4 separate regions of the Homo sapiens genome follow, and regions 2, 3 and 4 are each linked to region 1. Evidence: fine-mapped expression QTL. A gene starts in region 1. Each other region holds a variant in brackets. All regions are shown on one strand. Distances are between the middles of the regions. Region 1 holds the start of TLN2 (talin 2). Region 2 overlaps TLN2 (talin 2). Region 3 overlaps TLN2 (talin 2). Region 4 overlaps TLN2 (talin 2).

What was found.
Region 2: its variant is fine-mapped to the expression of TLN2 in tibial nerve (GTEx, PIP above 0.99). The same link has a PIP of 0.9 or more in esophagus muscle and gastroesophageal junction.
Region 3: its variant is fine-mapped to the expression of TLN2 in thyroid (GTEx, PIP above 0.99).
Region 4: its variant is fine-mapped to the expression of TLN2 in aorta (GTEx, PIP above 0.99).

Annotation. Positions count from the first base shown.
Region 1 is chr15:62,387,277-62,395,276 of GRCh38, reverse strand. TLN2 (talin 2) reads right to left here and starts at 4,727. Exons shown (of 59, transcript NM_015059.3): 1 at 4,592-4,727. RefSeq lists enhancers at 3,705-4,319, 5,238-5,307 and silencers at 4,498-4,827, 4,875-5,071.
Region 2 is chr15:62,408,753-62,416,752 of GRCh38, reverse strand. All of the region lies in intron 1 of TLN2 (talin 2), which reads right to left. Among named protein-coding and RNA genes, the nearest start is that of TLN2, 22 kb to the right of the region's middle. The variant G/C (reference allele first, on the strand shown) is at 3,811.
Region 3 is chr15:62,754,625-62,762,624 of GRCh38, reverse strand. It overlaps TLN2 (talin 2), which reads right to left. Exons shown (of 59, transcript NM_015059.3): 37 at 6,932-7,093; 38 at 804-944; 39 at 172-353. Among named protein-coding and RNA genes, the nearest start is that of MIR190A, 65 kb to the left of the region's middle. RefSeq lists enhancers at 2,934-3,731, 3,732-4,529. The variant G/A (reference allele first, on the strand shown) is at 4,026.
Region 4 is chr15:62,513,326-62,521,325 of GRCh38, reverse strand. All of the region lies in intron 1 of TLN2 (talin 2), which reads right to left. Among named protein-coding and RNA genes, the nearest start is that of TLN2, 130 kb to the right of the region's middle. The variant G/A (reference allele first, on the strand shown) is at 4,986.

The sequences.
Region 1 (8,000 bases):
ATTTCAGTTACTATTTCATCACATTCTCATCTCCCCACCCTCTACCCCACCCCCGCCCTGGCTACTAGATACACAAAGTACAAAAGAGTATCACCTCCTCGGAACACAATGTGTGGGCATTGTGAGGGCAGGGGATGTCTTCTCAGCATAAAGTACATGGTAAACCCTCAAAAACATACACTGAATGAGTGAATAACAGACGTAGGGAATTAAGTTTGTTAAAACTGCAGCTAAAAGAGTAAAAAGAAAATACAAATGTTCATTCCTTGTTCTACATTTTCAGAACAGCATCAGTTTGACTGAAATTAAATTGTTGATTAAGAGAAAAACAAAACCATGGTCTTGGCACCGTCTCTGAAACTCCACTGTGAAATGGGTGGCAAATGAGCCCAGTCCTAATTCATAGCTCTGGGTGACATATAAAGACTCTCACAACTAAAGCATTTTGTACCCAACCTTGTCCACCAGCTGTTATTCAAATGGCACCTGCCCCAAGCCAAAGATTGTCAGGGTGGTCAACACACAAGAGAGGTCTACCTTAAGCATGTTATCTTCCCCTCCTCCACCCTGACTTCTTTGCCTTTCTCCAGGTTATTGAGGAGGGGGTGTGGGCCCTGCAGGGGAAATTTGACAGAGTTCACATTCCCTAACTCTTTGAACTTTAGGCAAAACATCTGGTCATACCCACCATTTATCCCTATTATTTGTAATAGTTATGTGTGGCTTATGTTTTAACTAGTCTCCTTATTAGATATAAAAGTAATACGATTAAAAAGTTCTGGGGAAAGTACTGTAATTAAAAAGGCACCAGTGGGTATGTTAAGCTGTAATTCCAGGCCTGCTTATTATGTTTTCCTTCTTGTCTTTAAAATTTTTGTACCTAATAAAAATAACTGAATTATTTAGCTCTTTTTGAGTACTTCCTGTACTGGCCAACGACCACTCAAAATCATCAGGAAAACATTATGACTCAAAAGTTCTGGAGCAATAATGTCACAGATCACAAGTTGTAGAAACTGTCTCAAGAGTCTGGACATGCCACACACACATCACAACACCACTACACAGACTGGTAAACAGACAGGCAACTTTCCAAAACACATACTCGTTTTCTAACCTTTTGAAGTTACAAAATCTTAAAAGGAAAAAAATGCAAGAATTTTGGTCAAGCCATGAAGTTATGATGATTAAGAATCAGGTTGGCCAGGTGCGGTGTCTCATGCCTGTAATCCCAGCACTCTGGGAGGCCGAGGCGGGTGGATCACCTGAGGTCAGGAGTTCGAGACCAGCCTGGCCAACATGGTGAAACCCTGTCTCTACTAAAAATACAAAAATTAGCTGGGCATGGTGGTGCGTGCCTGCAGTCCCAGCTACTTGGAAGGCTGAGGTGACAGAGCAAGACTCCATCTCGGAAAAAAAAAAAAAAAGAATCAGGCAAGAGGCAACAAAGCACGATGTATAACAATTTGTTGAGAGAGGCATTAAAAAAAAGATAAATATTAAGGTAGTAAACTTGGGAATAAAGATTGGAGGGTTTGCAATAAAGCTTCTCTTTTTTATTATGTAAGGTTTAACATGTATAAAATATATGTGGCATATACATAGTTACAAAGCATAACGCTAAAATGCATAAATACCTATTTAGATGCATAGTTTTTTTCTGAGCATAGTTGGTAAAAATTTATATCATTCACCACCTGTAATCGTCCTTTACTGCTCTAGAGAACTAACGATGTTCTGGGAGTGAGGGGTGAAGGAGGGGAAATCAGGTTAATTTTGAGAGAGAAAAGACAGATATTGACTAGAAAATAACATACTCACCTCTTCCTAAACCCTAATTTCACTTAAAAATACTCTAGGGAACAGTGTTTGGAAAAACCTGAATGAGTCAGCAGTAGATGAGTTCAAAACACATATATAGCCTATGCCTGTACAGAATATCCCTAGTAACTCATTCAACAGGGTCAAGTTGTTAAAAGTTCGCTTTCTCTTTCGAGGTAGAAGCTCCACATCAATGCCAAAAAGAGAGACCCTCTAATACTCTTTGGAATCTCCCTGATAACTTAAATGGTTACAAAGGCAGAGAGAAACCAGTGGCTTCCCCAATATGAAGAGACCTGTTTCTGTGATTAAGGTGCTCCCTCTAAGACTGGAAACTTAAAACGGATTGAGGCTTTCTGCAACTGATTTCTCTTCTAAATTAGCTATGCTAATTTTGGAAAAATATATCTTGGGCTCTGGGTGTTTTCCACTATTCTAGTGCTCAATGAAAAAAAAAAGGCATTCGTGTAGGCATCCCTCTTCTCTCAAGACCACTTGTCACACCCACCGCCATCCTCTGATTTTGCATAGAGGTCCCAAATAAGCAATCAAGGTAGGTAAAATCTTGGCTGACATTCATATCGGAGTCACTTTTGCAGGCGCTTCATGAAATGAATCAGGGAAAGAGCTGCCTAACACCTAACATCTCCAGGCACATCTCCCACAGGAAAGCCTCTCCCCTCCCTCTGCACACCTAACCCCCAACCCCAGAGGTTTCTGTGGTCCCTTCTAGCCTCTTCAGTGAAGAAGACCGGAAGTGCCGACAAAACCTCAATACTATGACATCATTTCGGTAACACTCCAAGGAGAACACGTTCCTGCAATTGGCTGCCTGTAGGTTGGCAAACACGCCCGTGCCCTGTCCCATCACAAAGCAGAGGTCACAGTCTACTTCAAAAGTAAAGATTCCCCACTCCCGCTTCCCCCTCACTCCAGAGAGGTCGCTGCCTCCAAGCTCTGGAGAAGGGAGGTCAGCGTGCAACCTTACAATGCCACAGCTTAACACACCCAGGTATTATTAATGGAAAAGTAAGTGGTACTTACAGCACCAGGGCAATTTACGTGTATTTTGGGGACCACTTCTCCAAGACATCATCCCTACCCAACCGTCTTTAATTATGTCTTTGACAACGCCAACACTTCAGTTCATTCCTCTCTCATCTTCTGGAAAGAACCAGAAGTTTTCACTATGAGACACAGGAATTCTGGCCTAAGTTGTCCCAGCTCTTCAAGGACAGCAAGAATCCAAGTTTCCCCACGCGTCACCTGAAGCCCCAACTTCTGGAAACGCCCTCCTTTCCTCGCCTCTACGAGCTGCGAGAGCAGAACACGCAGCCGCGGGCGCTACTGCTGTCGCCGCTAAAGCCAAAGAGGCGACTGGAAGCTCAGGCTGTTCGGCGGCCTCGGGGCGACCACAGGCCAGGCCCTGGTCCTGATCCACGAACCAAGGCGCCTCCTCTCCCCCAGGAAGTGAGCTACTGCGCCCCTCGGAGCACCCAGGCGAGCCCGGGCACCGGGAGAACGCTCTACACTCGGCGCCCAGCCCCGGGACGCCGCCCAGCGCACGGCTCCGGCTGAGCACCCGGGCAGCGGTAGCTGCGGGGAAGAGGGGCGTGTTCCCTGAGCCTCGGAGCCCCAAGGCCGGGTCCAGGCGGGACAGAGGAAGGCGGCAAGCCCAGCACGCTGTCCGTGACGGCGGCTCTCGTTCCCAAGCCCCGCCGGCTGGCGTGGCGACGCGCTGTAGTCCGCGCGCCCTTGCGGGGACAGCAGTCGTGCGCGCCTTGTGCGGCCGCCTCCGCGCCTGCCTCGGCGCGCAAACTTTCCCGGCGACAACCGATCAGGCCTCTCCGACTGGGGCGCGGGGCTCTCCCCGGGACCCAGAAACTGCTCGCCCCCTCCCCTCCGCAGTCAAGACCCACTGAAAATATGGCGCCCTCGAAAGTCGTTCCTCGGTCCCCTCAGGGATCCCGAAATACTCGTCTCCAGGTCCCTCCAGCTTCCAATGGGCGCAAAATTTCAGCTCGTGGGACCGAGGAAGGAGAGGGAGCCGCTGAGTCTGTGTGAGGCCAGCCGCACTGGATGCAAAGCCTGGCCCCGCTCTCGGCCCGGCACTGCCCCCGTCGCTCAGCGGCCAGCAGTTCGCCCGTGGCGAGATTGCCAAGTAAAGGGCAGTCGTGGGATCGGCAGGTCTGAGTGTCCGGCACCGGAGAAGGAACTCCGCACTGGCGGGCTGTCTTAGCCCAGAGCCTCGGCGGGAGACTTGTTTGCAAAGTGGCGCTGGAGTCCCGGCGGCCAGTGCTGGAATGAAGCTGCTCCTCCAGCGCCAACTCTTCTGGCGCGGGGGCCCGGCTGGGGTCGAGGGGACACTCTATGCAGGCGGGGCCGCTTTTCAAAGCCCAGTTACCGGAAACCCAGCGAGAGCCCCGGAGGGGACCGGCTGCCCACGGCCAGGAATCCGCTCTCTGGCGCCGACTGCGAGGCTGTTTGCAAACCGCTGCGCCCGGGTCCGGTGCAGTGAAACATACATGTGCAATAGACAGGTGCATTAATTTCATTTTATTTTTATTTTCCTGCAAGAAGCCCTCCTAGACCATCAAATCTGGGAGCTTTACGGGTTTTTCCTGCATTGGCATCACTCACGAGAAGCAAAAGGGAGGAAAAAAAACCCCACATTTTCCTTCTGGAGAGGGGAGGGAAAAGACACGAGAAATTCATGCAACGTGCATGCAGCTGGAGGAAGAGGAAAACCCGAGTGAGCCGTGCGCCTTACCGGGGGATGCATTTACTGTCTCATTGCAGAGCGCCTGCCCGGGAGTGCAGCCCGCGTCCCCCCGCGCGCTGGGCGACCACTCCGCTCCCGCAGCCGCCTCAGCCGCTGCCGCCGCCGCTGGCTCCGGGCGCGGAACAAGAGCCGAGGGCGAGCGCGAGCGCACTGCCCGAGAGCGCTGGGAGGGCAGGAAGCGCGTCATCATTCGGGGACGGCGCGGCGCCGGTCCGGCCGCGGCGCCGCGCGGCACCGGGGTGGGCCGCCACCGAGGCTCAGGCGCCCGTCCTGGGTTTCCTCCCACGCGTGGTGATGCTGAAAGGGTCCGCGAGGGAAGGTGATGCACCGGCCGAGCTGTCACGGGGAAGGGAGGCTCGGGGTGACCCCGGCTTCCCAGAATTGGGGCTCTGCTGTGTAAAGGGGATGACTGCAGGACACAGCGTCTTGTAGGCTGGGGCCCCTAGGTCCGCAGAGTGCCCTCTCGGGACCTCTGGCCCGGTCCTGGGGGAAGCGAGCTGTGGCTAACTGGAGGGCCGTGGTGGGCGGTGGGGTCTTGCTGCGAAGCGGAGGGCCGTGACCCCAGGCGAGCCTGCTCCTTTCAGCACAAGGACCCTGAAACCTTGCTGGTCAGGTGTCACTTAGGTATTTAGAGAACGACTATAGGGATGAGTGGCGGTAGGGGCGTGCTGTGTTGATAAGAAGAAAATAATTCACTCCTGCTTGCCATGCCCTGAATAAAGTCAGTTATATACCTCTTACATTTACAGTCATTATTAGTAAATACTGTAAATACCATGGAACAATGTGAAGGTTATTCAAGGGGGTGAGGAGACAAAACACTATGTACCGTATGGTCCCGTTTTTAAAAACTGTGATTTATGGAGAAAGGCAGAAAAGACTGGATAGATAAACACCAATAAGTCTCTCAGTGATTGGTGGAATTGTGAGTAATTTTACTTTTTTATTTATCTGTAAGGGACACATTAGTAATTTAAAAAAACAAGAATTAGCCATGACCCCTTTACTCCTAGTACTTTGGGAGGCCAAAGCAGGAAGATCTCAAGCCCAAGGAGTTTAAGATCGGCCTGGGCAATATAGCGAGACCTTATCTCTACAAAAAAAATTAAAAATCAGCCGGGTGTGGGGGCGCATGCCTGTAGTCCCAGTTACTGGGGAGAATGGTGGGAGGATCGCTTGAGCCCGGGAGCTCGGGGGCTGCATGAGCGGTGATCCTACCACTGCACTCCAGCCTGGATGACAGAGCGGGACTCTGTCTCAAAAAAGAAAAAAAAAAGGAAAGACGACATTATTTCCATCCCAATACAGAATGGACCAGGAAATAGGTAGCAAATCTATTCAGTTACTCAAATGGAACTGCTGGCAACTTTTTAGTGTTTCTCAGAGAAAGAAACTGCTGTCACCATAAACCGGAGACTGAATTGATTTTGTAAATTGAAATTATTTTGAATAAGTCCGTTGGAACATTGGATAAGGCTGGACATTCTGTGAGAACAATACCCTGTCCTTAACCAGGCTGATGAACCGGACTGTATGTATCATAGCAGCAAAGATAACCTTAGGGTACAACTTTGTAACTTATTGCAGAATATAAACTGTAAAGCTAACAAAGTATACATTATCAATGCACAGTGAGAGAACCAATTACTTGGCAACTTGAGAAAGTCCTAAAAATTGCAGGGCACAATTTCTCATTGTACAGGTAAAGTATTTTTGTTCACCACGCCTTTTTAAACATTCACCAGTCTCACAGAATAACTAGTGGTGGCAACAAGCCACCTCAGGGGTTGATTAAAAAGTACATGTTTATTGATTTCTGTATGAGCCTGGTAATAAGCTCACTAAATTAATGCCACCTAAATTGTTCCTTGGTTTACTAACAAAGAATAACCATATTTTTATGGTCCAAATGCCAGGTTTACATAAGAGGCTCATCAAGAAGGAAAGGAAAAAATGGTTGCAACTTAAGTGATTTTCCCCTTCCACTTAGTCCTCCGTTCATAGGGCCCAATAGCTTCCTATCAAGCATCTCAAAATCTTTCTGACACCTGGATTTCAAGATTTTCCATTACTTAATGCATCCTCTTGAAAGTATCCCCACACTTTTCCACTACCCATCAGCGGGATGCCATTCAGTAATGGAAGCTACATTCCATGAGAGCAAGAACCTCATCTGTATCTCTGTGCCTGAAGGAGCCTGACACATAGTATTTAATAAGTACTCAATAAAAATCTGCTTTATGAAAATAGCCTTATTTGTTCACTACCTATCTTACTAGTTCCTGAGATATTTGAAAAGTTATCTATTCTATTAGAGTGTCAGCAAAATTCTGGGATGCTGAGATCCTGTAGAGTTATAGCCTTGGTTTGGTTCAGTTACTTTTCAAAGTTCCAGCTAAATCCTAAGGCATTCACAAGGGTGAGGTGCAGGTGTCTGAATATTTGGGCATTAATAAGCCAGATAGCACTATTCTGTGGCTTTCCAAGGTCAATTAAATTCTTTCCCCCAGTGAGAAAGAACATCAGCCTTAGAACTCAGCTTTAGTTCTAGCTTCAAACCAATTGGCTTTGGACACTTCTTAATTTTACAGCTCCTGGTTTTTCTAACCACTCTTAGGGCTCTAAAAACCATTTACTGTTTTTTTAGAGAAATCAACTAACCATTCTACGTCCTAGCATTATATTTTTCAAAAATTTCCCCAGTAGAAGTAAAAGCAATTTTACCAGTAACCTTTACTAACTTTTCTGAAATTGAGATGCCTCCCTAGACCTAAAAAAAGTTATTTCTAAATTTAGAGTCAGCTACTAGTAGTCGCTGTCTTTATTCAGAGTGATCATAGTTCATTGTAGACCAGCAAAAAAAAACTAAAAAAACAAAATCTAACTTTTTTTAACAAGATTACATTTTGGGGCTTCGTCTCTACCCAGCAGAGGAAAACAGGGTGGGAGATAAAACATTCCATCTAAGCAATTTCTCAAGCCTTACAGCCTCTTACTTCTGCCCAGCAGATCTTAAGTAGCAAAATAAATACACTTTGTATGAATAAAGAGTGGAACATTTGGGGAGGTAAGTCAAAGAGATAGCTTCCAAGTCACTTGTAATAAATATATCTGGAACGAAAAACCATTTTCTTCACAAGTCAGATTTGTAATTACCAAATTAGACATTGCTTGGTGCTAAAGAGCTGGATGCTGAGAGATTGCCCCTCTCCTCCCATTGCACTGAGCCTTAACCTCCTGAATTCCTGTTGAGCACTTGTAGGTATCTGGGGTGGCTTTGCTCAGCTTTCATAGCTGAGCAAACTCAACTGTGTCCATGTTGAAAAAATAAAAGAAATTCCACCAAATATTTTGTTATACTTTATTTATAAGAGAATATTTTGTGCCATAATAAAAT
Region 2 (8,000 bases), 21 kb before region 1:
ATTCAAGCCACCCTCCTCTGGGCAAAGGGGCAGGGTGGCTCCTGTCAGGCCAAATGCTAAATAAGCCTCTCTCGCAATGGCTTGAGAGTCATCTCTTTGATATGTAATATCAAGGAAGATAATGCTATATTCTGGGCAGGAAATGAGCCTAACTTCAGCTGTCACCTGACTCCAAATTGCAAACCCTACCTCCAGCCTCAAAGATACGGCAAATTTAGCAATTTAATCTTGAAAACATAAATATAATGAGTTGTATCTACTTAGCTACACAAAAGAGCAATATTTCTTTCCCTTTCTGCAATTCCTTTAGCAGATTGCCTGTGATACACATCACATTCTGGCTTAAAGCTTAGCCAATAATAAGATTGTGTTCTTTCTCTTCTACCTTTGTGGAGAGGTTTTCTGGACTGAAGAGGGATTTTGTTTTTAATTAATTAATCTACTTATTTATTGTTTGAGATAGAGTCTTGCTCTGTTACCCAGGTTGGAATGCAGTGGTGATCACAGCTCAATGCAGCCTTGACCTCCTGGGCTTAAGTGATCTTCCTGCCTCAGCTTCCCAAGTAGCTGGGACTACAGGCATGTGCCACCATGCCTGGCTGATTTTTGTATTTTTTGTAGAGACAGGGTCTCCCCATGTTCCCCTGGGTGGTCTCAGACTCCTGAGTTCAAGCGATCTTCCCACTTTGGCCTCCCAAAATGCTGGGATTATAGGCATGAGCCACTGTGCCCAACCAACTTTGTTTTTAATTTATATTTCCCCAACATTCTTCACAGAATCATCCCAACTTCCACCCAGACCTGACTCCCTTTAAATTAGTTTTAAGCCAATTACATCTTCAACTAAAATAGGGTCCCTTTAAGTTTTATGATGTGATTTACTGCATGGACATGGAGGGCTACCCCCCACAACTCCGAGATCCTAAAACTTGACACGTGGACCTCTGGACATAGCTTAGTGACAATCTCTCAGCCTCACACACTGCAAAGACCACAAATTCCAAACAGAGGAAGCAGACCCAGCGACCGTGAGCCCACTGGCCCAACCCTTGGAACACACTGTTCCCTGTGCCAGGAGCGCCTGGCAGCGGGCCTCTTCCTTTGGGTCACCCCAGCAGAGCGGGACTCCTGTTTTGTTGGGCTGCTGTTTCCCCAGAATGGGGCAAGCAGGGGTTAAATGAATGGGCACTGTTAGCTGTCCTCTTTCCCCTCAAAGTCAAAGTAAATCCTATCTCAACATTTAGTTTGTTTCAGTTGGAATCATTTGTTCCACCAGGAAACGTTTCTTAAACAGAGAGCTCTGTTTCAACTGTTACAATGAAAAAGTCCTTTCAGCAGCAGAATGTTCATCAAACATTTTTGCTATCATGCAGCCAGCTGAACACAGGTGAAAAACATCCATATCCATGTCTCAGCCCTGCCACTTGCTACGTCTCCTCAGAAGAAACTCGCACGGCTGTCAGTCAGTTCGGGCACCTCTCCTACCCTTTCCTCCCAGAAATCTGTCCATCTCTGTCCCTAATAGGAACATGACTATCAAAGGCATCCTTGACACAGTGGCTCACGCCTGTAATCCAGCACTTTGGGAAACTGAGGTGGGCAGATCACCTGAGGTCAGGAGTTTGAGACCAGCCTGGCCAACATGGTGAAACCCTGTCTCTACTAAAAATACAAAAATTGGCAGGGCATGGTGGTGCACGCCTGTAATCCCAGCTACTCGGGGGGCTGAGGCAGAATTGCTTGAACCTGGGAGGCACAGGTTGCAGGGAGCCGAGATCACGCCATTGCACTCCAGCCTGGGCAGCAAGAGCGAAACTCCATTTCAATAATAAATAAATAAATAAATAATAAAAATTTTAAAAGGCATGCTTGACAGGAAAAATTCTTTTATTTACTCCTCCTTGGGTCACAACCAGAGTCTGCTTTTAGAGCCAAGTTGGAGGTAGACTCGAGGGTTCCGTCCAGCCAGACCTTGGAGCTGTCATTAATTTATTACTAAGCACTAGTGGAAATCTAACTTTATTTACCCCCATCAACTTGGCTTGTGTTACCAGAACAAGAAGGCAACCAAACATGAAATGCTTTGGGAAATGACCCACTAGACTGAACGTCCAAATCACTTTTGCTGTTACATACTGTATGACAGCGGTTCTCAAACCTCTGTGTGCAGAACACCCCTGAGAACTTGTTAAAACAACGGTTCCTGAGCCCCAGCCCAGAGCGTATGGTTCAGTAGTTTGGGGGTGAGGTTGGAGAATTTGCATTTGTAGTAAGTTCCCAGGTGATACTGCTGCTGCCACTGGTCCTGGACTACACTTTGAGGAGCCTGCTGAACACAGCACCTCAGCCTCTACTTGAAGGACAAACTAGCTTCTTACTGGATTCAGTGGCAAGATTAAGCCCACTGGTTCTCAAACACAATCCCCTTGGAACACCAGTGCTCTACCACTGAAATCAAAGCATAGGCTCACTCTCCTCCCCCACATTCTCAAATCAAATTAAACCTCAAGCACCACTTACTTGTTCCTACTATCATCTAAAAGGATTTAATTTCTCAAATTATATATATATATATATATATATATATAGTTTTTTTTTTTGCTAACACTTCACTGAGTTCAACCAATATGACATGTGATTATGAAGTTGTAATGGCCCAGCTGCCACAGCCAAAACCACATGGAAAGACACCAAAATTCAGTGCACTTGGCCTCTAGCTCAAGTTCAACTTCCCAAGGCAATCTCCCTTGACCACTGCAGCCAGATGGCTCCAATCATTTACCATACCCTCAGACTGCCAGATAAATAAAGGGCTTGGTTCCTGCCTTCAAAACTCAATCTAGGGGACAAAAATAAAATAGGCATACACATTAAACCATTTTTAACCAAGACAATGTGTAATCTATTGCTGAACTGTGCAACATAAATGTCAAAGGCTTCAGATTTTCTGCACAAGCAATCTGGTGTTTCATCACAGAAAATGCCTCTATCCACCCCATGCCTCTGCACTGGAGCCCTTTCAGATCCCCTACTCATGCTACAAGAATCGCTGTAAAGTTTCAGCCTTTCTACAATTTAATTTTAAAAACTTAATGTGCACCTGTCCCTGCAGACCTTGGCAATAGCATATAAATTCACGCCATGACTTTGAACACAAACATCCTGCCACTTACAGTGCAGAGGTTTTCCCTGTTCTGTGTTCCGTAGGTCGCTCTATCTGGCGCGTCAAGCCAAGAGAAACAGCCGGGTATAGCATCCCCAACAATAGGGATATTTACTGGCTTGAGATTTTTCTTTCCTGATCTTTATGCCTTGTACACTTCAGATGGACTAGCAATAAAACTCACTATGTTAGCTTGGGGGTGGGGGCAGGGCCAGCACATCTGGATCCAATCATTGTAATTTTACATTCTTAGCATCTTCCAAGGCAGCAGAGCACAAGGGGCAGTGCATGGACTAAATAAGATCCCTGGATTCTGATCAGGCTTTATATCTAACCCCATGTGTCACCTTGGGCAGGGCACTAACCTCATGAGGGCTCAGTTTGCTAAAGAGTCTTCCAAGGCCAGGATACCAGTGCTAACTAGCAACACAATTCAAGTGTTGATGAACTTATAATGACTTTCCCTTTTCCACTTGATTTTACCTGCAAAGATTTCAATTCTCCCTGGAGGAGACATTGGCATTGTTCATTTTTCTCGAGGGCACATCGCTCCCTCTTCCCCTCCTCCCTATCCTCCACTCTCCCAAGCCTTGCAGTCTCTCCACTTCTCTAGTTCAGCTTCTCCAAACAGGGGCTGTGATGAGAAA[G/C]AGCCCCCAGGAGAGTTTCCCAAATTGGCACTGAGTTCTCTCCAACTAATGTCTAGCACAGCAGGCCTTTAGTTCCTCAAATAAGCTTCTAATTGTCTTTTCAGAAATGTGCACGGACGCTTATTTCAAGCCATTTGGCAAGTGCCTCGCAGGGTATTTCCTCTGACATTGTGCTTAGAGAAGGAGGATTTAAGAGTCTAGGGGAGCATTAGAAAAACTGTACTCCATCTGATCCTGCCCTTGGACAAAAATATAACAACTTTTTCAAGGACCCACTGCTGGTATGATGTAAACCTCCACAGGTCTTCAAGAACTCAAAGTTGCTGACTCTTACATTTGAATGTAAGTCTTTACCCAGGGACAGGAAGAAGGTGTCCTGACAGAGTTAATGGATGCCAAGAATTGTGACACATTTGGGTGGTCCCAGTCGTGCCAAAAAACACATGCTCCTGTCTCCCTGGGCATCATTCTTCCAGGGTCAACATTAACAGAAGGACAGCTAGCACCCTGCCATCAGAGATGATGAAAGACCACAGGTTCAAGAGGATTTGAGTAGAGCACTCAATTTGGAGCCAGAAACTTGAGTTCAAATCCCAGACCTCCGTCTCTTCCAATTCCTCAAAAAGGTTATCAGCCCTTGTTACCACCACCTTACTGGTTTCAAATGTTGACAGGTGTCCCAGTCCTCTAGGCAAGCCTTTCCCCAAATTTAGTATGCATGCAAGTTCACCTCGGGATCTGATTAACATGAAGATTCTAAGTCCGTAGGTCTGGATTAACTTAAGATTCTGCATTTCCAACAAGTTTCCAGGTGATGCTGAAATTGCTGGTCCACAGACCGATTTTAAATCGCAGGGACAAAGAGACTTATGATCTAACCCAGTGTTTCCCAAAAGTCCCTGGTAAGAATTACATGGGCTAACTGTTAAATACGCCAGAGCATGCCCAGCGAGCTGTGTAAATTTACTTTGAGTTAGTACTCAGATGAATCTTATCATCAGAGAAGTCTGGGAAACCCTGAACTAGTTCATCCACATCCCTCTTCTAAAGTTCCCACACAACCCGTGGGTCCCCTTGTCTCCTTTCCATTTTTCTCTTTAGTTAACTTAAAATCTAACAGCCTAGCCCCTGCTTCTAGGGCCCCCATTTTGAGAGATGAATAATCTCCCAAACTTTTCCAAGTTCTGGCGTACTTGAAAAATTACCATGTCAGTAGGGCCTAAGTCCTGGCAGCCCCAGAGGAATGGAGAGAAGACTAAAGGCATCATTCACTATCTCAGCTCACCTGTTAGCATAATTCAGCTCCCTGACTAGAAAGCTCTGCTCCAACCTCAACCTCAATGGGCAAAACCCTGCAGAGCCCTCCAATATATCTCCCCATTGTTAAGATGACCCAAAAGAAAAAAAAATATATCAAACTTCTATCCTGAGGTTGCCTACAAGGGCCAATGCAGCATGGGAACAAAACACACACACACACACACACACACACACACACACACACACACACACATCCATTACTCACACTCTCTAAGGAGGAATAACATCTAATTACCATGTGCCCAGGAGCATGAACTATCTGTTTTACATCCATCATCTACTAAATCCTTGCAATAACTTCATTACTTGGGGATGATATACACGTTTTACTCATGAGGACACTAAGGCTTACAGTGGTTAGGTGACTTGTCCAAGGTCACACTAAATTATGGCCACTATGCGGTGGGTTCCCACATCAGCATGTTTGTGACCTTTGCAGCATTCATCCCTCTTTGGTTTGTTTTAATGCCTCGGTCCACACATACGCTTCCAGACTGTGCTATCCATGAGGGCAGGGCTCAGGTCTGTTTTGTTTCAGGCTGTATCCACCATGCACTTGGTAGACACCCAGAAAAAGATGTGCCAAACTGATGAATGACTCCAAAGCCAGGGCTCTTCTACAAGAATAGGCTGCTTCCACAACCACAGCAAGCACATGGATGTACCCTGGTTTAAAAGACTCCCAAACTATAAAACACGAATTTACAAGATACACTATGCGTTGGAGAATGCACAGTGGAAGGGCACTGGCCTAGGAGTCAGAAGACCAAAGGACTCTTCTCCCACTTACGCTACCTTATCACCGTACTTGAACAAGCCCCTTCGCTCTCTGCACCTCGGCTTCTTCATCAATCTGATGGTTTAATTCATCCCCCAAACCTCTGTGAACTCCCACATGTGCCAGATGTGGTTCTAAGAAAGAAATGACTAAGAGTAATGGATAAGAGGCTGCGCCCATCCCTCAGTAGCCCTGCACCAATTCCACTCCACCCAGCCCACTAAGCACTAACGGAGAGAATGCACAAAGAACAGTTTTCAAACAAGTATGAAACAGAGAGGGTCCTTGAGGGAATACATGCTTCACAAAAGGAATCTTTACTTTGCAAACTAATTCACAAAAAGCATGGCTAAAGTGACAAGTTCCTCTGATACCTTTTTTTTAAAATCAGGTTTATTAAAGTATAATTACGTAAAGTAAAATTCATCCTTTTTAGGGATACAGTTCTATAAATTTTGACAAATGCCTGTAAATCTTGCTGCAGTTTTTACTTTATTTATCTCTAACTTTTCAAGAATACATTATATAAAATGATGTGAGTATATATGACCCAAAGACACAAAATTAACTTTAGCTCCCTTTTTTTTTTCTTTTTTTCTTTTTGAGATGGAGTCTCGCTCTGTCACCCAAGGTGGAGTGCAATGGCGTGATCTCAGCTCAGTGCAACCTCCGTCTCCCGGGTTCAAGCAATTCTCCCGCCTCAGCCTCCTGAGTAGCTGGGATTACAGGCGCACACCACCACGCCCGGCTAATTTTTGTATTTTTAGTAGAGACGGGGTTTTACCATGTTGGTCAGGCTGGTCTTGAACTCCTGACCTCGTGATCCACCCGCCTCGGCCTCCCAAAGTACTGGGATCACAGGCGTGAGCCACTGCACCCGGACCTAGCTCCCATTTCTAAAAATAAAGGTTCCTCATTTTCCCAGAAGGAAGAACATAGAACTAAAAATCTTGTCTTTAGGGGGAAAAAATTCATTTGTGGAAACATCTGCAAAGCACAGAACTTAGAATACCAAGATCTATTACACTGGTCAAGAAAACTGAATCTCTTCTATTAATAAAGTATCTCCTCCCAACCCTCCCCCTCCCATATGAAAGCATTTACCAATTTTTGAAATATGCATGCAGAGTCCAAGAATATACATATATTTCAACCATGGTCATTCCTAACTACCTGTGCAGTTTAAAACCACAAAGCCTCCTTGAATTAACTCCAAAAATCTAAAATATATTTCACATACTATTAATGCTCCAAAGGAATTTACTTTGACAATGAATGTAACTTTTTAAAAGGCTATCTTAAAATGAATTGCATGAGCTTTTATAAAAAATGAGAAGGGGAATGGTTATTCAAATAGAAAGCTAACAATCTATTAAGATTACATCTCTGTTGCAGAATGAGACCCTGCAACAGCCAGAAAAAAATGGAAACAAATGCCAATATAAACAATCTAACAGTATTTATAACCCTACTGTGTGACTGGCTTCTGGTAAAAAGCAGGACTGATTTCCAAACCCTAGTTCAGTGACATTTAAACTTCAGTATACCTAAGGATATTTTGATTATAAAAACTACAAGGCACAGTGGCTGACACCTGTAATCCCAGCTCTTTGGGAGGCTGAGGCAGGCGGAAGGCTTGAGCTCAGGAGTTAGAGACTGGCCATAAGCGACATGGCCAGTCTCTACAAAAAAAAATCCCCAACAGTCAGTCATGGTGGTGCCACCTGTGGTCCCAGCTACTTAGGAGGCTGAAGCAGGAGAGTCGCTTGAACCTGGAGGGCAGAGGTTACAGTGAGCAGAGATCACACCACTGCATTCCAGCCTGGGAGACAGAGTGAGACCCTGTACCCCCCAAAAAATAAATAAATAAATAAGTAAAAATAAGGGCCAGGCATGCTGGCTGTCACCTGTAATCCCAGCACTTTGGGAGGCCGAGGCAGGAGGATTGTTTGAGCTCAGGAGTTCAAGAACAGCCTGGGCAACAAAGCAAGACCTAGTCTCTACAAATTAAAAAAAAGAAAAAGAAGAAGAAGAAAAGAAAACAACAAATTCTTGGACCATACAATTAATTTGGACTACCAAATTAAAATCT
Region 3 (8,000 bases), 370 kb before region 1:
AGTACTTAAGTTAGCAATTACTATTGTGACCAGTGCTTCCGGCCCCAAAGAGAAAAGAAAAAGATGATAATGATCAACAATATCACTATTAAGTAAAAAGCCTGGTGGGCTTATCCTCCTCCTTCCCCGCTGAGATGCAGGCTGGCAGCAACCTCCGGATGGGAAACTGACCTGATAGAAGTGATGAGACTCTTGATGGAGTCGGACACTGTATGGGAATGTCCAGCCAGTACAGACCAGGTGGGTGGGTCTTTGGGGTTGATGGCCAGAGAGCGTGCAGTGCGAATGAGGTACGATGAACTCTCCAGCATGGTCTTGGCTGAGACCAGGATTGGTTCCTGTGCCTGGGAACCCTGAGACCAAACAGCAGAGAAATCAAAGTCAGGGTCGAAGACATGAGTGAATGACGTGGGCCCTGAAAGGTCCTGTTCTTTGCCAAATCACCACCTCTGCCCTTTGAAGGAGACAAAGAGGGCAGGGAACCATGAAGACTGGATTACCAGGGGTCTGCATGGCGGGGACTCAAGCCCATGTTTGCCCCTTAAATAGCATTTTTTGAGTGTGACACATCCCAAGAATCGCCCCAAACCTAGGCAGTAAGATTGTTCTCTACATATATGTTATCTCTCAACAGAGGTGTAGTCATTGTGTTTCACTAACTGTGCACATGCCATCATTGACAAGAGTAACAGTAGCCTACATGTTGACAGAGAGAGCTGTTGGAGTTTTAACTAGTAACTCATTTGGTGCCACACAAAGTTAGCCAAAGACCTTAGTATGATGTTCCTGTAAACACTCCCTACCTCGGAGCTGATCTGGGCAGGAATGCTGACAAACTCAGGGTTTGAGGCGAACGCTGTCAGGTTCTCCACAGCTTCAATCAAGGGTGCGGTGGCGATGCGACACTTATTGCGGTTGTCTTCAGAGAAATCCCCATCCAGGGCCTGATGGGAGAAAACAGGGAGATTCTGCCCAATTGAGAAGCACAAATTATTTCTGAACCACAGTAATCACCTCTTAGTGAAAGAAGGTGGTTCAACCGGAACACTGAAAATCTCTGGTGACTTCATAAACAATAAATAGGAACTGATGAAAGAGACCCCTGCCATCAAGCAGAGGGGCCCAGTTAGATGTTGTGGAGAATTAAATGTGTAGCTCACAGGACAACTGACTCCACAGTCAACTTTCCACTCCCAGGAAGCAGAGACACAGATTTAAACAGCACCCTGCTCTTCAACGCCCCGTGACCCCCTGCACCAGACTATGCAGCGGGACTACTTTCCTCCTCACTTTTGAGACTACAATCCTTGGGATCTTTGCCTTCATTTTACTCAGATTAAATCTATTCTCTTCCAAACAATAAACATACCGTATTGTATTTTAAAGCAGTACTTTTAACTTTTTCTAAGTTTTACCTGGATATTCCCTAATGACTGATGGAGGCAAGGCAGGCATAACTGTCATCATTCTGAAATGAACACAATGGAATCTAATGAGAAGGAATAGATGAGAACTACCCCCAGCCATACAAATAAATCTCACAAACATCATATTTAACAAAACGGGCCACCCACAAATGGGTGCCTCCTGTACAATTCCATTAGTACCAAGTGCAAACACAGGTGACCCTCCTAATCTAGGGTGTTAGAAGAGCAGATAAGACCGGAGAGAGCATAAGGAAAGCTTCTGGGTGTCAATAACATTCTGTTTCTTAATCTGGCTAGAGTTACCAAGGGGTGTTCCACTTGAGAAAATTCACTGAACTCTAAACATAACGTGTTTTCTCTGTGTGTATCTTATGCTTCATAATTAAAAAAAAACAAAAACAAAAAACTAACAGCAGGTAACACAATGGCATTGCATGATCAGGCCTATTGCTGATTTACGGTCTGGATGGATAAGGATCCAGGAATGTGGCCTGTGATCCATGCTAGACTGCTAACAGAGGGTCAACACTTCGATGAGGTTCCCAGCCCTGGACTCTACCTCCTCAGGATCAAGACTGTTAGAACCTACAGCCTGTGACCCAATGACAGAAACCCTCCCTCCCAGCAAAAGGCTACACTTGACAAGGCAGTTATGTTTGCAGAAGAATGCAAATTTCCTTGTTAAATGACCACTTAAACTTTTAACTTAACCCTTATGAGCAACATATAAAGCCAATTTAGACAATTGGGATAAAAAAAAAACAGGGGCACTGGCATTACCAAGCAAAGCAGATCTGAGATGGGAGCATTTCTGTTTTTCAGTAGAGCAAGAGGAGGCAGCCACCGTTGGTTTGAAGGCGATTTCTGAATAACAACTACATTCCAATCAAGCCTTGGCAGCTTGGGACAATAATTACATACCCACAATGCTAATATTTTCAGAGGAATTCCCGCAAGCCTGGCTAATTTACTGTTTTTTGCTAATATAGTACCTGGCTTGCCTTGGCTCATGCCCTTCCCCCACCAGACAGGCCCTGACCCTACCCTCACCTCTCCAGTTCTGCCATTTTTCCAGGCCCAATGGAAACCCTTGCACGCCGGCTACTTCTTGCTCACATATAAAGCCTCATTTCTCACTACCACTTACATAGCTGGTAAATGTTGATTTATGCTGCCGGCACTGGCCACGTAGAAGTGAACCACTTTGGTACTGTGATCTTGTTGCACTGTTAATATCGCTCTGAAGTTTGGTAGATCCCTGGAGGTCGGGGTTTACCAGACTTCAGAGCAATTTGAGAACACCAGTGCGAGGCAGGGTGGGTGCCACTCAGCAGGAGCCTGACACAGATGGGCCCAAACACAGGCAAAAGAGTGAAGCAGGCTGATTGCAAGAGTGGACTTTGGAGTGGAAGAAACTCAGGTCCCAGCCCCACCAGTGGCTACATGGCTTTCTCCAATCATACCCCTTCAGCTGGGATCACACGACTTCCAGCTTAACAGGAGATGCTCAGCCTTCCCTTGGTGCTGCTCGCCCTTCCTGCTTCTTACCTCTCCAAGCTTTTCTCTTCCCCTTTCTGCTCCCACAAACCTCTCAGTCTATTGGGAAGAAGGGCAGCCAATCAAGCCACTAAGCCTAAGCTGAACTTCTTCAGACTAAAAAGATGACAACTCAAGGGAAATCTCAAGGAATGGTTTTCTAATTGTGTAGGTGTCACAGACAGCACTATTAGAATAAAGACAGGGTTTGTTTGTTTGTTTGTTTGTTTGGGGCTTTTGTTTTGAGCACAGGCCCTAAAATCATATTAACATATAGCCCATTGCTATTTGCAGGTCAAAGCCTTGAATAACATGAACTAGAATAGCAAGCCATATCAATCATTTTCCATTCTCAAAAAGGACAAGTTATTTTATCCAGAAAAGGCATCCGGCGTCAGAAAGGATAGTTTGCACAGGTATTATTTCACTTCTGAACTCTGCTTCCATTGGGCACAGCAGAGCCACTCAAGTAAACTGAATACTCAAAGCTGCCCAGTGGTGACATTTCAAGCAAGCATGAGAGTTTCCATGTCACAGAACATCTGGCATACCAGCCATAATGATGAAAGGGTAAATTTACTCAGCCATATTTCCAGGCCCCACCAGAACAAGAACACTCCCAAGCCCGGAGCCTGCTCCAAGTGTTCCCCCTTAGCAAAATACCACGGACATCTGGGAGAAACAATTTCTGTGTATGCACAAAGTCAGATTCATGGACTTTGGGGGTTAGAGGGGACCCTAAAGACAATTTAAGCTTAAACTCCCAATTCTCCAGACAATAAAACCAGCACCTGGAAAGTGACATGACTTGACAAGGTCACCTTGCTACTCACTGGCATGCCTCAAACAATGAACCGAGCCTCCTGGCTCCCTTCTCTCCTGCTGACCTTAGACAAAGGCAACAGAACAAGGAGTAAAAAGCCCAACAGCCTTTTTCCTTTTCCTTCTAAAGAAACCACTTTCCCAATCCAAACATAGGGATGACCAAGAAAGCATACTCACAGCCAAGTCAAATTCGATTAAAGAGAGCTGGATCGGGTGTCTGTGGTACACACTGAAAGT[G/A]CTTAATTGCAAAAACCCCGAGCTTTAACTCTGCTGTGAGGGGCAAGGCCAAACTTCAACTTCTCAGAAAAACAAACGCTGCTGTTGCATAATTTCTACTTGGCACCCAAATGTGAGTGACTGCACATTTAAAATAACATTCCATTCCACACATCTGATTCAAGACTAGGTAATGAGCTGAATGAAAGGAAAAAGGCAGGCAACAGCGTATGTGGTGACTCGGAGAGACAGCCGCTGTGGTTAGGGGTGTGCATCCTTCTACCATGCCCAGCATTTACAGCCATCCCTGGCAGGAGGCAGAAACACAGAAATGGATTCTCGTGGAGCCCTGCTCTGGGATTTTAAAGAGTGCCATCAGTAGTGACTGATGCCGATGAGCCACTGTGTGAGGTAATCTGCTCCTGCTCCCTCGTGCTTCTCTTGGTGGCTCCCCTCCCTTCTTCATGACTATAAGGGTGTGGCAGCTGGGATTTAGGCTTGGGCACATCCTCATGGTTAAAAGAAAAAAACAGCACTAAGCAGCATAAAACTTAAGAGCAATATGCAGCTATCAGGGCACCTGTCTTAAGCACTGAGGGAATTAAATATTCATTTGTTTTTCTGTTTGACAGAACACATAACCATTCCTTCAAACAGGAAATCTATTCAGTATATAGTACCATGTGCTACAGTGAAATGACCTTTACCACTTTCCTGTTAGTAAATTAAAAGCAAAGCTCATGGCTCCCAGCAAACCCTGCCACATGATGGGAATTGAAAAACCAGGCCCATTTCCACACGCGGAGGGGCAGCACGTTCATTTCTGTTCCTCTTGCATTGCTCCTCGTTCCCAGGGTGCGCCAGGAGACGGAGGCCTTTATCTTTTCCACGTTACAACCCCCCGACATTCCTCCCCTGATGTTCTGCACAGGCCTATCTTTTAGGCCATCACGAGAGCTCATTTGCTGCAGGGAATCGCAAAGAGGGTTTGACACTGTGAGGAGAATCTGAAAAGAACATGAGATCTTAACAGAGATGCTTTATATAGAGATAGGTCAGGATTTAAAACTGAAGAGGAGGCAGACAAGAAAGGGCTCCAGAAATTTCGACAGAATAAAGAGTGTCTTTCCTGTTTTTACTCCGTTGGTCCATCTAAATATAATGTTTTTTAACGACCAGAAAATGATTGATTTTAACTGAGATAAGCTCATTACACAGCAACCAACGATGTCACTGCTGTCAACTCTATCGCTCTTTCCACCCTTACCTCCCCAAACTCACACACAAGCCCTGCAAACACAGCAAGGTCTTTCTTCCCAGGCTGGAGAGATGACTTCGTCTCTCCATCCCAAAGAGGTGAACAGCATGCCAGGGCTGAAAGCAGGGGCTCTGGGGCCTGGGTTTGAATTCTGCCCCACCACTTCCTGGCTGGGTCACCTTGGTAAAGTTACTTAACCTCTTTGTGCCTCAGATTCCCATCTGTAAAATGGGGATAAGCACAGGGTGGTTGTATGGAGTGAATGAGTAACATACCTAAAGCACAAAATAAACATTTTTAAATGTAAGCTTTATTACTTCCTAATTACTGTGAACTATGATGGTAATTCAGGTAACCTGCCACCAGGATCATGGGGAACCTGGACACTGGCTTTATTCAACTTCAACTGAGCTTACTCTTGCCTTCAAATAGGGAGGGGTTTTTGTTTGTTCATTTCTAAAAAAAAAGACTCTTTGTTTAAACAGCTAAGAAGCTGCTGACTGGGGTGCGAGCCCCATGTGCTGACTGCCAGCTTCCAACTAGCGCTGGGCTGGGTGTTCTCTCCTTTTGCCTCTGCTTGGTCATCCTGTTGACTGATTTCTGCATGCAATTGCACTGGCTTTTTGTAGTCAAAACAAAATGAGGTGTGCAGTGTCCTATCCTCTGGAGAGAACTGGGAAAACTTCTCTTACTCTAGGACTGTCCCAGCAGCAAAGCCAAACCTCCTATCTGAATGAATACAAAACCCTTAACTAAAAAGTGTTAACTCCTTCAATGCCTTTCCCTTCAGTGGTGTCCAGGGTTTAACACAGAACTGGTATCTTGCCTCCCATGACAATGCTCCTTTGAAGGCTGGGGCTGTGGAGGGAGCTGGCGCGATGGTGCTGGGCCTTCTGCCTGCGGTCTGTTGTCCAGGCTGTGGCTGTTTTCTCACAGGTCAGCTGCCTGCTGCCTGCTTGGTCCTAGCTGAGGGCAGACTGTGTTTGTGGCTTCATCGCCCACCTACAAGTACTAAGGCCTAGTGATTCCCACTTGCTTCTTGCAAGTGAACCTGCCCACCCGCCACATGCCCATATACCTTAATGCAAAGGTGAATTTTTAATGAACACCAGATGCTCTATTTTTAAAAGTTGACGCTCCACTTAAAACATTCAAACAGCTATAAACAGAATTAATATCACAGGAATGATGAAAATGTTTTAAGTGATTTTTCCACAATCTCCCATTCCCTTCTCCTTCCACCTACTCTCTTGGTCCAGATATATTCAGCAATGATGGGAGAGCCCTCTACTAGCCCACCCAAAAACGCTGCAAGTAAACATATCATTTAAGTAAAATCAGGGTATTTGCTACGCAAGCACAGTGCTAAGAGAGGCCCTATAACCAACCCTTTCCCACCAGAGTTCTGTCCCTAAGCTCCTCATGTACAGAATTTGGGGAGGCCTCCTTCCCCACCATCTAAAAGGTTAGTAGAGCCCAAGCCTGTTGGTTTTTCAAGAAGAGTATCTCCATTAGTAAGGGATGCCTATTCAGTGACACAAACCATAAGACTGAATTAGAAGTTAAGCTTCACTAGACAAGGAGAGGAGTGGAGCTTAAATCTTGTTCCCCTTCCCCCGCCAGAACAGGAGTTACAGAGTTCAATAAGGCCGGTAGTCCAGCGACCTACCTTGATGGTCTTCACCAGGTTGGCAGTGCTGTTGGCGACTTCCTTGGCTGACTGGACGAAGTGCCTCTTGGCTACTGGGTTGGCCGTCTTGGATGAGGCGATGCGGCAGGCATTGCACAAGGCTGACGTGTGCTTGGCAACAATTGTGGCGGCTGACAGGACCTACAAAGCATGGAGCTAGGTTGGGGGTACCCCATGCTACAGTGCAGAGGGGTCCACCCCGGTCCTCAGCCCTGGGTTCCTGTTCAACTCACATGTTCAGAGCCTGTGTAATTACAAGCATGTCTAGTTCTGCGACCCTCAAAGTCACTCCAAGAAAGAGGAGGGCAAGAAATCTTAAGCACAGATAATAAAGAAAGAATAAGAAAAAAGGAGGTGCTGACATAGTGGTGGGATAGGCTGAGCCCCAGGTAGTCTTAAAGGAGATGTAATCAGTTAGCCTTTGGAACCCCAGATAGGAGGTCCAGGGTATAGCATCTAGACCAAGGTCTACACATACCCAATTTTAAGTTTTCTGGCAGTCACTTTAAAATAAGTAGAGAAACAAGAGAAATTAATGAAATAATTTCTTCTATTTAACTTGGTATATCCAAAATATTTCATCATATAACCAATTTAAAAATATTGAGATTTTACAATCTTTTTATCATACCAAGTCTTTGAAATTCAGTGTGCACTGCATATTTACAACCCATCGCAGTTTGGACTAGTTCCATTTCAAGTGCTTAACAGCCACATGTAGCCAGTGGCCACCATACTGTAGAGCCCAGATCCAGATGACAAAAATACATATCAAGGTGCAACAGCTCCCTCCTCATCCATGGAGGGCTGCTGGCACCTACTGAGGTGTCTGGCTCAGGAAGTTCCACAGGCTCCACCCCGCCAGCCTCAACTCATTTGCTTTCCTGAATCCACCTGTTCTGCTTTGCTGAGGCTGGTAACACCCCTTTGGCCTTGCTGGATGGGTAAGGACTCCCAGATACACCAGCTCTTGGGGCTGCTTTAGGTCCACATGGTCCTTGTGTTTCCTTCTTTGTTCAGGCCCTTCTCCTGCCTCAAGAACGTGGGC
Region 4 (8,000 bases), 130 kb before region 1:
ACCCTATTCCAGGGCTTTCCCCTGTACCCCCCACCCTCACGGCACCCAGCCCCAGCCATTCTTTGCTCTCAACAGCACTGCACAGATGTCAAAAATTCAGCCATAAAGGAGAAAGAGAAGGGTGGGATGTGATCTACAATTCACCACAAAACTATTCTTATGATCCTCTTTCCCTTCAAGCTTCAGATTTGCAGTTTAAGCATGTTTGGCCCAGAAGTCAAGGGACCAGACACACTCCCCTGTCAATCTATGGGAGGGACAAAGGAATGACACTGTAAGAAGACAAAAAGAAAGTGAAAACTTAAAGTAGTATACTCTCCTTACTTCCACCCAAGCCAACAGCAGGCAATGATGTGGAGCTTTTTGCACGTCTAATTTAACCATTCACCCTGGCAAGGACTAAGTATGTAAGGAGTTAAACACACACTCCTTTCAAAAATTTAACAAGTACATAAAAATTAAAAGGTCCTTAAAAAATATCTGAGTAAGAACAGATAGCCCTCAGAGATTATTTTTTAAATCGCTCTATCTCCCTTAAGAGATAGAACTTCTAAAACAGATATACACTTTAAAAAAATAAACAACTATTAAGTAAGTAATACTGGACCTCCTAAATCTGCAATATGATGCTACTTTTTCCGCTTAGCAACATATACGGTTATCTTTCCAACCACCTCCTTGGTCTCTATGCTGTAGTTATGTTTCCCGTTTAGAAGAAATAAGAAAAGGTTGACTTAGTGTCCCGTTGCCAACAGAGGGGTAGATATAACAAAACCTATTCACAATTCTGTATTCCTCACACATTCAACATGAAAGCTATCAAGGTTATCTTTTCTAACCCCTTAGAGAAAGGCTGTATGCCTGTGCATATATGTACACTTACACACATGTAGACATTACTCAGCTCTGTGCCTTCAACAAACTTCAGGGGTAAATTGCAGGCTCTTCTAAGAAGCATGGAGATGGAAATGTGCCATTTTCCATCAGAAGTGACAATTAATAAACACAACTTTGGGAGGCATACAACTGTACAACAATGAAGACTTCAGATCCCCAGAGAGAAATGGCATACATTCCGTAGCTCTTAGTTCAAAACTTGATTTTAGACACTGATATGGTTTGGCTGTGTCCCTAACAAATCTCATCATGAATTGTAGCACCCATAACTCCCACATATTGTTGGAGGGACCTGGTGGCAGAAAACTGAATCATGGTGGTGGTTTCCCCAATACTGTTCTCATGGTAGTGAATAAGTCTCACAAGATCTGATGGTTTTATAAGGGGAAACCCCTTTCACCTGGTCCTCACTGTCTCTTGTCTGCTGCCACGTAAGACGTGCCTTTCGCCTTCCACCATGATTGTGAGGCCTCTCCAGCTACATGGAACTGTGAGTCCACTAAACCTCTTTTTCTTTGTAAATTACCCAGTCTCAAGTATGTCTTTATCAGCAGCATGAAAACGGAGTAATACAAACACTAACTAAAAAACTTTTTTAAAGTTTCAGGAATATTTTCCTAGAAATACAACTTCAATTTCATATGCACGTAACACACTCCTTTCTAGAAAATGTCTTTCACTGAAAACTGTGTAGCCAATTTTATAGTCCTCAACCATCAAACAGAAATTTGCTGCTACACATTATACTCTTCCTTCTGCATACACCACTGACAAGACCCACTCTCCTTTACCAATCACTTTTGCTTCCTAGCCTAATCCTAGCAGCTGGCATACCCTGTATCAGCCTGTAAAAGTAAGAGAACACTGGAGTCTTCAATTTACAGTTCTCTATTCTGCAAAGAGGCTAAGCTTCCAAGGTTAAGCTTATTTAATATGCTATCATCATCACCAGCCAATAATTTACATTGAAAAGGCACAGGAAACAAATTCCCTCAGTGTCTCATTTATGAGCCACCAGGGATAAGCTTAAAATAAAGGTGTGAACACTAACAGAAAAATCAACATGGTCCAGGCCAAGAGTTGACTTGGGCTGTCATTAATATTTATGAGTTATTTACCAATGTAAGTGAGAGGTACTTAACTACCCCCACCCAAAGGTACTGAGACGGCCAACTTCAATTGCTGGGGAAATGTCTACCTTTTATATAAAAAGCACACTCAGGAGGAAAGGGTTTGTCTCACCTAAAAGCCCCAGATCTGTGGTCAATACTGTGGACTCCACCTTCATATCAAGTTCATCCAGCTCTATAACATAGAGGTCTATGACCCTGGGCAAGTTGCTTAACCACTTAAACTTCAGTTTCTTTATCCATAAAATAAGAACAATAGTAGTAGCTACCTCTTAGAATTGCTGTGAAGTTTAAACAAGTTAATATTTCTAATCCTGCTTAGAACTGTGTGTGGCACATGTAAAGTGCCCAATAAATCTTAAATCATTATACCACTAATCCACACTAAAAAAGACATTGCAAGCCGGACGCCATGGCTCACTCCTATAATCCCTGCACTTTGGGAGGCTGAGGCTGGTGGATCACTTAAGGTCAAGAGTTCGAGACCAGCCAGGCCAACACGGTGAAACTCTGTCTTTACTAAAAATACAAAAATTAGCCGGGTGTGATGGCGGGCACCTGTAATCCCAGCTACTGGGAAGGCTGAGGTAGGAGAATTGCTTGAAGCTGGGAGGCAGAGGTTGCAGAGAGCCAAGATCGCGCCACTGCACTCCAGCCTGGGTGACAGAGCAAAAATTCCATCTCAAAAAAACAAACAAAAAAAACATTGCAGGTCACGGCTCTCCACCGTTCACCATATTTTGCATGTTCTAGCCCATTTAGTCCTCAAAACACTGATAAAGTAGATAGAAATTTAATTTTCAGTTGAGAAACCTGAGGCTCAGACAAGTTTAAAGTCATACCAAACTTGCTAGTGAGCTGAAATCTGAACCCATGTCTATTTGTCTTCAAAACCTACGCTCCTCCTACTTCTCCAAGCTGTGTGGCTCCTTCCTGCCTCCGACACAAATAACTATAAAGAAATGTGCTGGTGGTGGCTCACGCCTATAATCCCAGCACTTTGGGAGGCCGAAGCAGGCAGATCACAAGGTCAGGAGTTCAACACCGGCCTGACCAACATGGTGAAACCCCGACTCTACTAAAAATACAAAAACTAGCGGGACGTGGTGACGCATGCCTGTAGTCCCAACTACTCAGGAGGCTGAGACAGGAGAATCGCTTGAACCCAGGAGGCGGAGGTTGCAGTGAGCCGAAATCATGCCACTGTACTCTAGCCTGGCGACAGAGTGAGACTCAATCTCAAAAAAAAAAAAACTGCTGCTAGCTAATATTTAATGAGCATTTACTATGTGCTCAGTCTGACGTCAGTGCTTTACTCTCGTTCCACACAACAATCTTATGGCTAAGTAAAATCATTAACCCCATTTTTCTTATGAGAAAATTCAGGCTTAAATAGTTCAAGTAATATGTCCAGGGATATTTAAGTAAGTGGCAGAGCTGGGACATGGCTACAGAGTCTCCCATAATTATTTCATTTAAAAAAAGAAAGAGACAAACAGACTTACCCAACAGGTCTGGGAAACTTTTGTACCATCAAATCAGTATGTTCCTTAGAATTAACATGTTTGTTTTTCCAAGTGGGTAATGTGGTAAGCCACAAAGCACCAATTCTCTTATAACATTAGCGGTGTGTTTGACTTTTAAAAAACAAATTAGAATGTAAGTAGAGTCCTCATTCTCCTGGCCAATGTCATTTTTTTGTTTACAAAAGGGGTACAAAATTAAAATATTGGGGGTGTGGAATAATTATTCAGGTTCATTGCAAAACAGCAATCACCACCTCATTTTTCTCCACTGCTCGGCAAATGCAGTGGGGGTAAACCACCATGGCCCCCAAGCAAACTTAAAAGTAGAAACAATTTTGTTTGGGATATCTTTATGTTTGTATCTATAAGGATTTAACTCAGTTATTTTTCAAGCAAAAACATGAAACATCCCATTTTATTCCAAGTACAACAAATGTGTGAACCTTTACTGTGATTTTCTACTAACAGCAGTTCAGGGTATGAAGGAAAAGGAAGAGGACAAAGGGACAAGGGTGAGCCTAAGGAGTAGTAAAGACTGGACAAAGAGGCTAAAGGATGAAAGGCACAGGTGCAGAAAGTGGGGACTCCAAGGCACAAAGTGGGAGGAACGGCGAAGGTTTGGTAATCTCTGAATTAGCAGCAACCTCTCGCCATCCTTGGCTTCAGAACATCCACCAGCCACTGAAATATTATTAGCTCTTTCATCCGTATCCACTGATCTTCAATGAAATAGTAACAGTGAGGAGGTGCCACATGGTGACGGAGCAGCAATATCTTCAATCTACAGCATCATAGTCAGAACAATCCCATCACTGGATAGTTCCAGTGAAACCCACATCTCCCTCCACTCCAGTCAACCTACACCTTTCCAATAAAACTCAGGACCAAGTTTATCAATACCTAATTCTGCCTCATGCAATTACCTCACCTCCTACCTAAAATCTTAAATAAGCAGCCCCAAAAAAACTTTCTGCTCTCAAAATGATACGAGGCAAAGCTACTAAGAATGACTGCACAGGCAAATGAGTCGTGGTATGATTGATCACCTGCCCCCTAGAGCTTCTGTCCAATTAAGCTGGGTGGGCAGAGACTGATGGTACCAAAGGCAGAAGGACACCACCAGGCCTTCAGCCATGGGAAGAAAAGAGACAAGAGGCGGATCAAGGCTGCAACAGCTGTCCAGAAGCAAGCATGCACCCAAAGTTGAAATCAAAAGATTTGAGATAATTATAGGTCACTACCAACACCATAGAGTGAATATGTTCCTTCACCTGACAGACACATTTTGTCTTATTTGTAGTCAAAACAAATAGAGTAAAATGTAGAATTCTTCAGGCAGAGCAGCAAAACTCCTAACTGCATAATGTGATTAGGACCAAAATAAACCTATGACCCATATAAAAACACTGAAAACATAATCCAAAGAGGAAAG[G/A]ATGCTGTATGTCATTTGCAAAAAGGAGAAGGCAAACTCACATGTTGTTCTGGACCTAATTTAGAAGCTCTTATTGCCAAAAACTATAATAAATTGTGAGCACACTGTCTTCTTTTCATACTGCCTTACCCTCTCAACTATAAATAATAATTTCATATAAGCTGCAACGGAAACGGCAGCAAAAGACATGGTCTCTACTTGCACAAGTCACTTGACCTCTCTAAACCCAGGTCTCCACCTGTAAAAAGAGATGGTTGCATTGGATGATCCACAAAGTAGAGTCACACTAATCAAATGTCTTCAGTTTTGAAATTCACACTTGATTGGCTCCCTTCGAGTCCTGGCCACATCATACCTGAGCTGCCCTTCCCCACCCAGGATCTTGTTGCATAGGGGGTTCAGCAGCAGCGAGCTACTGCACAGCGGGACATGCCAGCAACCACAGCTGCTATGGGGCAAGCCCAGCACACATAAAGGACAGGCAGAGGGTGCCTACAAGAGGAATGGCAAGTATGTTCTGCTGGATTTATTTATACTTTACGACCTGTCCACTACCAAAAGAATTCACTGGAGTCTGATATAAAAACACACGTCTGAAAAAAAATCAGATGTGTGAAAAACACCAAAAACCCCAACATGCACAGAAGGCACTTAAAATGAAGATCAAATTAAAAACTAGAAACTGTATGCATGTTTTCAGTGATCCTTTAGTCACTGGTAGTATGTCTACACAGATAAGCCTAAGGATAATTTCTTGTATCTAAGTAAGAAATGCCCTCTCCTTCAGGGAGAACACTCATCACAAAGTTTACTAAACCCAACACATAATAGGATCTGTTATAGTTATATTTCAAAGAAAAGGAGAAAGAGAAAGTTTTAAATTCCTGCACACAGGTATGCCAGAAAACAAGACCACAACTTGCTGGCTCTTTGGAGTAGCCAAAGTCTGGAAACTATGCAAATTTCCAGTGACAGTAAAATGGATAAATTATAGTATATTCACACAATGGATTACTATGCAGCAATAAAAATGAACAAACCAGTCATGCAAACAACAACATGGATCAATCTCACCAACACAGTGCTGAGCTAATAGCAAGAGCTAACTGATATGATAAATATACTTTTGGGGGGATTAAAATTATATTGGGAGTATGACTGAAGATAGCCATCTACCACACAGATTTAAATAGAAGATGAAAAAAATCAGAGAAACAGAAATAATAAAAATCTTAGCATTAAAATGGGCCTTAGATCTTCTCTAGCTAAGCAGCTTCATTTGACAGAGAAGGAAACAGAGTGTGTAGGGAGTTCCAAGGTTCACGTGCTCTTAATTCCTAGGTCTGTACCTTTGCCTCATACCTGCTCCTCTCCACAAAATGTTCCAGACTTACATTTCCGCTCTCCTTGGTGTAAGTGAGTTATATTTTTTTAAATGGCATTTTGCATATTTACTCTCTTCTGGGAAAGTTGAAAGTTTTCATTTTCCCAGTTTGTTAATTCCACACTCCAACAGGGTAAAGATAGAAACTGATTTAACTCTTCTCATTAGCAATGCCAATTATTTAGGAAGATAACTGTTGAATACTCACTTAAGGACTACTGAGAGATTAAATGCAATTTACCACTCTCGAAGTCTTTAACACTTCAATTACAATTACAACCTGACACAAAATTAATTTCCATGTTTTGAAATAATACACCAAACTAACTGATACAATTTCCCTTTCTTTCCCTCTGTCAAAAGTCAATGCCCATGAACTGCTAAAATAAAATCTCTTCTTACAGTATGTGAAGGTCACATTATATTTACATGCTAATGACCACTGTGAATTAATTACCACTCTTAATCAAACAAGCTCATCTGCCTAAAACAGGTTATAAAAGACCTTTGAGAGGGGAAAAAAGCACCGTATTAAAACTTTGTTCCCAACATGCCATACGTACTTGTAAAGGGAGACTCAGGATTTTTCTTAAGAGCATTAGACATTTGATCTTTTTAACAGAATTATACTTCACTGCCACAATGAAGAAAGTTTTATGGTTATTTTTTTCATAACACTACTGACATAATGACATCAGGTAAAACCTCATTCATAATGTATTCAAAAGTTTTGTTCACAAGTAATAAGAGCCTCTAGGAAATTAATTACCAACAAGAACTAAAAAAGCTGGAGGTGTTCGCATACTAGGCTAGTAGCCAACAAGCAACTGGTGACCAAAGTAAAGCAGCTAGGTACAGTGTGTGCTGTGCGCATATATTATGCAAAAACTAGAAAGTTGTGTCTTTCAAGTTATAGCAAAGCTAATGTTGAGGTTTCTGCCAACTCCTTGACAAGAATTTCTTTTGCTTTGGTTAGTAGAGGGCGGAGGGGTTAACTTGTAAGAGATCTGGAATATTCTCCGCCCTAGACTAAAGACAGAAATCAGTGTAACAGAGCCAGAGTCACAGCTCCAACACACAAGGCTACAGGCTTTTACACCATTTAATCTGCAGCTACAAAATGCCAAACAGGTTCTGAAAGGGTTTGCAATTCCATCAATATTTATTTAGCACCAATTTTGTGTAGAACTTCTTCTAGACCCTATCTGGATTGAAACCTAGAGAAGGATCTGGCATTTACTGAGTTGTCCATATGCCAGACACTCTGCTAGACCCTTTAGTATCTGTTACACCTCATTTTTCATCATCACTATCACCCTGCAGGGGAAGAATGATGGGCCATTTCACAAATGGGTAACTGGAGGTTAAGTGACTTGCCCTTAGCAAAAGGTAAAGGTCTACAAGGTTATGGGATACACTCCCTCCACTGTTCCAGCTGACCCCAGGCTATAAGACATTTCCCTGTCGAAACAGGAAGGAAATCCAACATTTACAACAGAGCAGAAAGTTCTAACACAAAGCAAAGGACACCAGCACTAGGAAGAGACAACGCATCACAGATGCTGAGCAGGAAAGCTATCACTTCCCACCTGGCAGGCAGGTGTTGGGAGGGACCACAAAAGAGGGATCAC